3 linked regions of the Homo sapiens genome follow. The gene in region 1 interacts genetically with each later gene. Each region holds a gene or a part of one and is shown in the gene's direction. Other genes may lie near its edges. The genes, in order: USP8, ARID1A and PTAR1.

Region 1 (3,656 bases):
TTTCTTTTTTTTTTGAAAACGGTCTCACTCTCTCACCCAGGCTGGAGTGCAGTGGCGTGATCACAGCTCACTGCAGCCTCGACTTCCTGGGTTCAAGCAATCCTCCCACCTCAGCCTCCTGAGTAGCTGGGATTATAGGCACATGCCACCACGCCCAGCTAATTTTTGTATTTTTTTTGTAGAGATGGGGTTTTGCCATGTTGCCCAGGCTGGTCTCGAACTCCTGGCCTCAAGTGATCTATCCGGCTCGGCCTCCCAAAGTGCTGGTATTACAGGCGTGAGTCACTGCGCCTGGCAACTTCTTTTATTTTCTAGTAGAAAAACATAAATTCGTTTTGTAAGAACACTATGTAGATTGTTATTGGCACATGTTCTTATAAGTTTTTATTTTTCTTTCAGTACACAGTATTCTCAAGAAATGATGTTAGGGTCACTTCTCTAGTGTTAACATGCTGTTAAATTGAGGTAATAAACATTTAACTCATTAAATCAGGAACTTAGGTAGTTTATTACACAACCTGAAGGAAACTAGTTAGTATTTTACCTCATGTAAAAGTTTTTAGGGAAGATTGCATTTGTTCCCTCAGTAACATAGTTACTAACTGTGCCAGGCACAGTCTTTATCCTTTTAGAGCTTATATTCTAGGAGGGAAGAAAAATTTTAAATAAGTAATTATAGTTATTTGATCAGAATTCCGGTAGAGAAGAATAAAGTATTATAAGAGCATGTATCAGGGGACTTGGCTAGTTCTAGGAACCAGGGAAGTCTTTTCAGAGGGAGAGATGTGTAAGCCAAGACCTAATGTGGGCATTATCTAGATGAACAGCTGATAGACCTAAGTTGGGAAGGAGCATGGCATCTTGGAATAATTTTTTTTTTAAGGCAAGTATAGCTGGTATACACAGCCATATGACTGGAGAGGTAGGCAGATGTAAGACCATACAGGGCATTACAGACTATGGTAAAGATTTTAGGTGTACTGAGAGCATAGTGGGTAGCAAATCAAATTTGTTTTAAAATGAGTCCTCTGGCTATAATGTGGAGAAACAGATTGGGGGGCGGGGGCAAGAGAAGAGATGGGCAACTAGTTGAAAGCTATGCTGTAGTCCTGGTGAGAGAGGAGGTTGACATGGTCTTAGCCTGTGGTAGAAGAGATGGAGGGACAGATATAGGAGGAAAATTAACAGCGTGCAGAAGGATATGGGAAGAACATATCATGGGACTCAGGTTTTTGATTTGTGCAACTATTGGGAGAGTGAGAGTGGTTACATCCATGAGATTAGGACCATGTTTGTCGGGGTGGGGGGAATCGTGAATCCGTTTTGGCTGTATGGGGTTTGAGATACATGTGTTGACACTCAAATGGAAATATTGGGTAGGCATTTGGATACCTGGAAGTGGAACTTAAGTCTAAGTATGCCCAGGTCTAGGTTTTATGTTTTAGAATAAAGACATTTTTAACTCTTTTGTATACAAAACACTCAGGAAGAATTGAAAGTGTTGAATCAAGAGGATGTAAGTTCCAGTGATGTTTGAATATCTACCATTCAAGTTCTGTTTTATGAGAAATCTTGACACTGAGTAATTAACAAATAGATGTGCTGATAGATGTTGTCTCCACAAAGTGACACTTCTTTTATCACAACTTGATCTCAAGAACTGAGGTTATTTCCTGATTTTTGACAAAAATGTTTTGCTCTGGTTTTGTTGCTCTAGATTGATCGTACTAAAAAACCAGCAGTCAAATTGCCTGAAGAGCATAGAATAAAATCTGAAAGTACAAACCATGAGCAACAATCTCCTCAGAGTGGAAAAGTTATTCCTGATCGTTCCACCAAGCCAGTAGTTTTTTCTCCAACTCTCATGTTAACAGATGAAGAAAAGGCTCGTATTCATGCAGAAACTGCTCTTCTAATGGAAAAAAACAAACAAGAAAAAGAACTTCGGGAAAGGCAGCAAGAGGAACAGAAAGAGAAACTGAGGAAGGAAGAACAAGAACAAAAAGCCAAAAAGAAACAAGAAGCTGAAGAAAATGAAATTACAGAGAAGCAACAAAAAGCAAAAGAAGAAATGGAGAAGAAAGAAAGTGAACAGGCCAAGAAAGAAGATAAAGAAACCTCAGCAAAGAGGGGCAAAGAAATAACAGGAGTAAAAAGACAAAGTAAAAGTGAACATGAAACTTCTGATGCCAAGAAATCTGTAGAAGATAGGGGGAAAAGGTGTCCAACCCCAGAAATACAGAAAAAGTCAACAGGAGATGTGCCCCATACATCTGTGACAGGGGATTCAGGTTCAGGCAAGGTAAGCAGAAACAGTACAAATTGCCAACGAAGTGAAAGAAAATGTATATGAAAATGTGAAAACACCAGTGGCATTCCATAAAAGGGCAGGCATTTCAAATAGTCTTTTCAGGGGTGATAGAATGTACTGATCTATCCACATTTGCTCATCTATTCTCCTTTGAGGCCAGTGCCATACATTTATGAAATGATTGGTTGGGAATGAAATTGCTTTTTGTATATTACATCTATAAAATGCAATATATTTCAAATAATTGAGATAAATAGCTACATTCTTCATTTTTATGTTTGATGTATGATCATGGGAAGACTAGAGTGAAATATAATCTCCTTCTCAGTATGGGGAAACTAGATGCTAATATTTGTATGATAGAATTTATATCTGTTTAGAATATATCCAAAATCAGTGACATCTAAATGGCCTAACATTTATCTTTGCATATAGTGATTTTTTGGTCAGATCGGTGTCATTTTGTTTCTTGCTTTATCTATTTAAATAATATTGGCAAATAACCCAATTAATTTTGCCCTTGGCTACACACCCAAAATTGATAGCCGTAATTTTAGGGGACTTTTTTTGTTATTCTTTTTCAATCTCTAATAATGCTATGCTTTTCTTTTTTTCTTCATTATGTCATTAACAATGCCTTTTCCTTTTGAACACCAAGTATATGTTTATAATACCAAGAACAGTTATGGTCCTTTTTACATATGTATAAATGGAAAAAACATTTTTAGTAGTGTGGAAATGACTTCTAATGGAAGGCGGGATACCATCTTTACAGAATGTCAATTTCTATACTTCTCAAACACAATTCAGGCATGTTACCAAAATTAATTCATAGTCAAGCTGCTCTTATCCAGGGAACACTTATCTGGTAACCTCTGCTATTAAAAAAGATAGCTTCCATCCAAAAACCTTCTAAACACCCCAAATTGGGGATATGAAGCCCATGTACTAAAACTCTCTAATTTTATTCACAGGAGGAGCAAAACATGTGCACTCCAAGATACAATTTAAGTATTATTCATTGAGTAGCTACTATATGCCAAGTATTTTCACTGCATTGTCTTATTTACCCCTAATGATAACCCCATAAGGTATTTAATTTACAAGTGAAACTGAAGTTTAGAGGTTAAGTATTTGCCTAGGATCACATAGACAGTGAGATTCCAAAGCCACTTCTTTTCCATCTTGCTATACTAGAGGCATGCAGTCTTTAGAACTTAAATCATTCATATTTGTGGAGTCATTTAGTATATAGGTGCCAAATATTCCTACACATCTAAGATTGCATTCTTTGTGTGCTCCTTTTAAAAGTAGGAGAAATATGTAATTTATTCTAGAATAAATT
Region 2 (3,656 bases), on another chromosome or scaffold:
AATGAAGCCAGCCAACAGTCAGTTATGAATTCCTTCTCCCTTCAGGCTTTATTCCCCTCCCCCACAAAGGAAAACAAAACAAAATAAGACACGTGCATACTGCCACATAACTGGCATGAGAAGCAAAGCCACGGAAGGCTTTTGAGGTGACTCCATGCATATTCCTGCCATTCTCCCTGATACTCAGATCTCATAGTCAAGCCTTCCCTGTCTATAGGGAAAGGGAGCATTGGGTTAGGTTTCGCTCACTTCTGATTGGGTGGGCTTCAGGGTTCACTGAACCTAGGATGAGGTACAGAGAGAATTCTAATGCCTGAGCCTGTCTTCCAGATTGGAAAAGGATGCAAACCTTTAAAATGCCGTGATTGTAACTGAACTTTTATAAAGGCAGTGATAATTCAGGGGCAAAAGAGTGCTATTTATAAGTTAGTTTGTGAAGGCTCCAAGAAAGCAAAGCTGAATCTTGAGCTTATCTAAAGGATTAGTAGGGTTTAGGTGGAAGAGTGGCCAATCCAGTAGACTGGCCTAGATGCCACGGAGATGGGAGAGAGTCTAGATATTTCCCACCAAGGCCATCTCCAACCATGAAGACTTAGCTCAGGTGTTACCCACTCTAAGAAGTATTCCTAGTCACCTCTGCCCCTCTAGGTTGTCCCCCTCTGTGCCTCTTTAAACTCTTCTTTCTAGTATCATAGGTATCATATCAGCAGACATTACAACCTATTGAACTTCCTTTGTGTATAGGGACTTGAAAACCCTTGTTCCCAGGCCTTGGGGGAACAGGCTTACCATATGGTAGATGAATAAGCATAAGAATACATGAAGAAGGAGACCTGTCCAGCTAGAGCAGAAAGACTAATTGTAGGGAGCATCTGGGGAATGGGCTTGGTCAGTGTGCCCTGAAGCTGAGGGAAGGAGGCAGAACTGTAGGTTGGCTGCTCGGGAGGTACAAAAGTCATAATAAGGCCCCGGGCCAGGCGCAGTGGCTCACACCTGTAATCCCAGCACTTTGGGAGGCCGAGACGGGCGGATCATCTGAGGTCAGGAGTTTGAGACCAGCCTGGCCAACATGGCCAAACCTTGTCTCTACTAAAAATATAAAAATCAGTGGGGTGTGGTGACAGGCACCTGTGGTCCCACTACTTGGGAGGCTAAGGCAGGAGAATCACTTGAACACGGGAGGCGGAGGTTGCAGTGAGCCGAAATGGCGTCACTACACTCGAGCCTGGGTGACAGAGTGAGACTCTGTCTCTAAATAAATAAGACCCTGAACACCCGGACCATCAGGACAGTGACTGGTAAGGGAAAGGGACCTGTGGTTATTTGTCAATGAGATATGTAGGGGAGCAGTGGCACAAGAATGTCAAATTTGCAGGGAGCCACCACCCCAAGAAAAAAATATGAGTAAATCCCAAGTTTGACAAAGCAAGTCAAGCAGGGTGGTCACTGATATTATCATGAGTCTCCATTTTATAAAATGTTAGTTTTTATTAGTGCATCTAAAATAGGATTTAGGGCCAGGCGCGGTGGCTCACGCCTGTAATCCCAACACTTTGGGAGGCTGAGGCGGGTAGATGACTTGACGCCAGGAGTTTGAGACCAGCCTGATCAACATGGTGAAACCCCGTCTCTACTAAAAATACAAAAATTAGCCAGGCGTGGTGGTGCACACCTGTAATCCCAGCTACTCGGGAGGCTGAGATAAGAGAATCGCTTGAGCCCGGGAGGCAGAGGTTACAGCGAGCCAAGATCACGCCACTGCACTCCAGCCTAGGCGACAGAGCGAGATTTATTTTTTCTGTCTCAAAAATAAATAAATAAAATAGGATTTAGATATCCAGATGATTTGTACACCACTTTTTAGCAGCGTACTAAAAAACCGGACTCTGAATTCTGTTCCAGTAGTAATGTGAAATTTGCCCTGTTGTGAATAAGCACAGTCTGATAGTTGCAGTGGAACATCCTGAGGGTAAAATGAAGCCAGCTGCAGATTTAACACTTCTTGTGGACTATCCACCAAGCAAGATTAACTTTTTCAATTACCTAAGAACTGTGGTTCTACAAAGATGAATACCTTACAGCCTGATGGGGCTTGGGGCTTATGGGCAGGAAAACCAGGCGGGAGATATACCTCGACTCCTTTGGTTTGGTTATACAGGTCAACAAGAACAAAAAATGGCGGGAACTTGCAACCAACCTCAATGTGGGCACATCAAGCAGTGCTGCCAGCTCCTTGAAAAAGCAGTATATCCAGTGTCTCTATGCCTTTGAATGCAAGATTGAACGGGGAGAAGACCCTCCCCCAGACATCTTTGCAGCTGCTGATTCCAAGAAGTCCCAGCCCAAGATCCAGCCTCCCTCTCCTGGTAAGGATGGGGTCAGCGGCCCCACCAAGGCTGAGAGGGCCTGTTGCCCTGGCCTCTTATTCAGGATATGAATAAGAGGCTTATCCAACAGGATATGCCAAGGATCTGTGCTCTGCCTTGCCCTACCACAGGGCTTAACAGGTTGGCTGACTAGAGAGTGGGCAGTGGAAACTCCCTTGGGAGGTACTCTACGGCAGCTCTTAAGTTTTAATTTTTGTTGTGCAGCTGACAACTTGCCAAATGTTTGTAAACTGGTGAATGGGAGGGGCACAAGAGGAGTCGGTGGAACTTATAAATGGCAGCAAGGCAGGGCCATCTGGGAGCTTTGGCCTATTGATGTCAGCACCTTAGAATGCAGCTCAGACTAGAGCCCTGAATTCCCCAGGGAGCTGAGATGGTAATGAATGGGAAGGAGGGAGTGGGGAAGGGTTATGAATGGAACTCCCTGATGGGAGTGGCTCTGCTCACCCTCCTTTCTGAGAGGAGGCTGAGGCCTAGGGTGAGCCTAGAGAGGGAAGAAGGCCAGGGTGCCTGGAAGGTGGGTGTAAACACATGTGCCCTGGTGTTGACCTCTGAGGGTGTAATGAGTGCCTGAGATGACTCATCAGCTGGGGAGGCCTCAGCAGTGGGATATCTACTGCTGGGAATGGTAACTATTGGAAACATTAATTACTAGTAGTTTTGTACTCATCAGCTTAGAAGAACATTTGAAGTTGAGGAGTGACACCATGCTGGATGCTTTAGAACAGGAGCTCCTAGACTCCTAAAATGCATCCCAGATTTGGGACCCCCTTCCCACCCAGGACTTGGGAGGCTCTGACTGGAGCTCATGCACCAGCATTACAGGGTTTAGTAGGTTAGACAAGGTCCTTTGGCGGAGTGAAGAGAAATAGCCAGGGAAGCTGGCAATGACTCAGGGAATCACCAGCATGGTGATGTCATGGCCACATCACTCCTCTTTTCTACACGTAAAACAAAAACAAAGAGCTACAAAACCCTCAGATTCCCGTCTTTATGACCTGGCCTTGTAGATCCTCTGCTAAGAAGGGTGATCAGGCTTTAAAGGCCTTAGGAAGAACTTTCCCAAAGAGATTCTGGGTCGTTCGTGTGTTTGTGTGAGAGTTAAACACTGTCATGCCAAGCAAACTACTCAACTTGTATCTCTGTCCACAGCGGGATCAGGATCTATGCAGGGGCCCCAGACTCCCCAGTCAACCAGCAGTTCCATGGCAGAAGGAGGAGACTTAAAGCCACCAACTCCAGCATCCACACCACACAGTCAGATCCCCC
Region 3 (3,656 bases), on another chromosome or scaffold:
AGTCATAAAATTTGAAAGCTGGGTGAAATCTATCCCATTTGCCTTACTGGAGGTATAATACAATTCTACCATTTTACAAATGAGGAAACTGAAGTCTACAGAAGCCAAAATGACCTGATACTGATATGTATGTATATGTGTGTGTGTATATATCTATTTCCATCCAGGACTTGGACACATGCTGTTTTCAGTATACTTTATTAGGAGAAAATCAGAGATAATGTTCTTTTAGAGGGACAAGAAGTGAAAACTATTAATTTGAATATTATCACTAAAGTACCAGGATAATCAGCCTTTCAGGAAGCAGCTATTGGGCACCTGCTATATCCAAGCCATTCTTATTTTATAAAGTATTTCTTGAAAGAACAGACAGTCAAAGCAGTGTGTTTTTTAATTGTGCAGATGGCTCTTTTCTGTAGTTTAGATACCAAATTATTAGCTGGGCATTTTAATCCTAGTTTAATTAGTGAGCAAGACAGGTTTTTATATTGTGAATTTAAGTTTAAAAAAAAAATCCCCCCCAAAAACAAACCATACCCAGAAACAGGATTCTTTTATTCTTGTTACTATAACAGTTATATTGTTGACTCTTGCAGTTCTTTGAAGTGTTGTAAGTAGGTTATTATATCTCAGAGAACAGAATTTCCTGAAATAATCACATTGAGTTTATTTACTTATTTAGTTTTACTTTATTTTTTAATATTCTTCATGTAGTAAAACACAAACATCAGAAAATACCAGAGATTCAGTCATATATTAGTCAAGTATAGCTAGATATGGCTAGGGGTCATAATAATGAATTAGATAGATTTCAGGATACTACCAAATAGAGATGCACAAAATATATTTTGAAATACTGGGCATTGACCTCAGGTGCTCTTTCAGCTTTGTCCTTATTCTTCCTACAGGACTTTGTTTATATTATTGGAGTAGTAAAGTGGTAACATTTTATTATGGATATTGACACAGATCCCCAGCAAGACTTTAGCTCTTTGAAGTCTGAGACCACTTTGCTTTATTCTTTTTGAATTTTAGAACCTAAGAAAGCACCCAGTACATTGTAGTTAATCAGAAAACTTATGATAGTATTGATATAGTATATCAAAACACCTTTGAGTCAACGGAACCAATTGTAAGGATAAAAACCCATAGATCCCACAGTCTTCTTGAGAGTTAAATTAGCTTGAAAGAATTGTTAGTGTCTTGCAACCCCTAAGATATCCTTTTTATTGATAAATCCCTGTGCCACTAATGAAGTGATCAGTAGAAAGTAGATTACCTCTAAGCTATTCAGTTTAGTTTCCAGGAGGGGTTTTATTTTAAATCCACAGCCTCCTACCAATTTGTGATAGTGGCCCAACAAAAAGACAGGGTGTTTCTCCTACTTTGTAATTCAACCAATTTCCCTCTTTTGGGTCTATCAAACCACTGTGTTCTTGGTAAGGGGATGCCAGGGACATAATACATAATGTCACACACAAACTCTGAAAACCAGTTCATTATTCTGCTTTTTAAAGACATGTTTAAAATATCTATATAGACACTCTAAAAACATTTATTTCAACTACTCTTATTGTTAAAAAGTTTCTTGTTATTCATTAATTAAACAGAGGACATTCTGTTTGAGAAAGGATCCTTTGTGTAGGCAAGAATTATAACTTCCTTTAGAGTTGAAAGGCATGTGAATGTGTTTTGCACAAATTTTTTACGTTTGCTGGTTCATTTACTAAGTAAGTCAAATGCCCTACATATTGTTTATTAAATCTCTGCCTTTAATGTAAATTTTCAGCTTAAGTTGAGGTGGATTGAGGGATATAGATGCTACCACAGAGGAAAATTATTGAATTCTGAAATGTATTTTGTGTTTTAACATTTATTTGGGTGGTTTTTTAATTCAGGAAAATATAAAGAAGAAAAAATGGCCCAAAATCTCACTGATAAAATAACGTTTTTTGATACTTTGTTTCTGGTCCACATGCATTTATTAGCAAGCAAGCATAAACACATTTGTTGACATTAAAAAAATAGAAATACATACAATTATTAGATAATTGAAACTGTATAAAAATAAAATCCTTCCTTACCACCTTTCTCTCTCCAAAAATTTCTTGTTATCCTTCCAAGAAAATTTTTAATGCATCTATATATCTTCTAAAGAAATTATACAAAAGGATTTGTGCTGTACACTGTGTTCAGCATTTTGCTTTTTGTTTTCATTTCATATATCTTGGCAACTTTTTTTATGTCAGCATATGCAGATCTACCTCATTGTTTTTTAATGGCTTGATTATGTGGATGGGCCTTTTTTTTTTACTAGTCTTATATTGATAAACATTTAGATTGTTTCTAGTTTTGTTGCAACATTGCAGTGAACATCTGATTCACATATTTTGGCATAGGATAATTTCTGAGCAGTTGAATTGCTGGATCAAAGGGTATGTTCCTTCAAAATTTTGAAAGACTTTTTTTTAAGTTGCCATCCAAAGGCAAGACCAGTTTTCACTCCTGTCTACAGAGAGTACAGCATACTGGTTTTCTCATACTCTTGCCACTATTAGCATCTACCAATCCCAGTAAGTGAGCTAAATAATATTTGTAAGGAAGGGGGAAATATGTGGGGTTTTTAAAATACTCTGAAATTAGAAAAATGTTGAAAAGGTTAGTATCCTTATTTTTAATTCTTTTTTATGTTTTACATATTAAGAGATGAAATTGGCCTGATCCCATGTCCTGAAGCTAGGTATAACCGGAGTCCCATAGTCCTGGTTGAAAACAAACTGGGTGTGGAGAGCTGGTGTGTCAAGTTCCTTTTACCATATGTCCACAACAAGCTCCTTTTGTACAGAACAAGAAAGCAATGGCTGAACAGAGATGGTAAGTATGAATCATATTTTCTTCATTTGGTTTTTAGAAGCGACATGGAATATAGTAGGAAGAGCCCTTCTCTGAGTGTCAGCATTCCTGGATTCTAGTTCTGCTTCTTCTGTTCACTGTCTCGGTGGGTGCTAACCTTTCTGTCAAGTGAGTAGTTTCTACTCACCTGGACAAATTTTACAACCACAGTGATTATATAGAAGCCCTCAAGCAGAATTTCAGGGCACCTCCTGTAACCAGAGCAGTTCAGATTTTATCAGTTTATGTATTGGGGTCATTGGTAAGATTTCATTTGAAGGAAAAAAAAAAATCTGAATGTCACTGAAGAAGACTCTAGTCCCTATAGGCTCAGTCTCTGGTTTCTAATCCTTTAGTATTTTTATAGGCAGCAAAACTCATTTTCATAGTAGTCCAAATGAGATAATGTAGGCATGATAGTGGTAGTGATATTATGAACCAGCCCAGTGATTTATGGATGTGCCATTCCACTGCAAGTTCCAGTTGAGCTCTGGCCGTTTGTATCCTGTTCCTGTGCTGAAATGAGCAAAACAAAACTATCCGGCATTCACTTCTTCCATTTCTCTCAGACAGTTTTTTTTTTTACTGCATCAGACAATCCCTAATCATTCCATCTGGTCTCTTTTCTTGGTGTTCTGCCATATTAAGCCTCCATGTGCACAAATTCTGTTTATCATTGTATGCCCACCTCAGGTCTCACTTTTTGGGAGAAGACTAATTTAAGACCATGTCCTTTACTGTTTTTGTAAAGCTTCTTCCCCTTC

Evidence for each region.
Region 2: changes in USP8 (region 1) and ARID1A together harm fitness more than expected from each alone (negative genetic interaction), as found in Homo sapiens cells (one large-scale study listed by BioGRID).
Region 3: changes in USP8 (region 1) and PTAR1 are lethal when combined (synthetic lethality), as found in Homo sapiens cells (one study listed by BioGRID).

The regions. Positions count from the first base shown.
Region 1 is NC_000015.10:50,479,764-50,483,419, forward strand, and holds part of USP8 (ubiquitin carboxyl-terminal hydrolase 8), read left to right. Parts: intron 1-1,717; coding exon 1,718-2,302; intron 2,303-3,656. UniProt on the Homo sapiens protein: Hydrolase that can remove conjugated ubiquitin from proteins and therefore plays an important regulatory role at the level of protein turnover by preventing degradation. Converts both 'Lys-48' an 'Lys-63'-linked ubiquitin chains.
Region 2 is NC_000001.11:26,768,961-26,772,616, forward strand, and holds part of ARID1A (AT-rich interactive domain-containing protein 1A), read left to right. Parts: intron 1-2,158; coding exon 2,159-2,366; intron 2,367-3,539; coding exon 3,540-3,656. UniProt on the Homo sapiens protein: Involved in transcriptional activation and repression of select genes by chromatin remodeling (alteration of DNA-nucleosome topology).
Region 3 is NC_000009.12:69,749,999-69,753,654, reverse strand, and holds part of PTAR1 (protein prenyltransferase alpha subunit repeat-containing protein 1), read left to right. Parts: intron 1-2,704; coding exon 2,705-2,874; intron 2,875-3,656.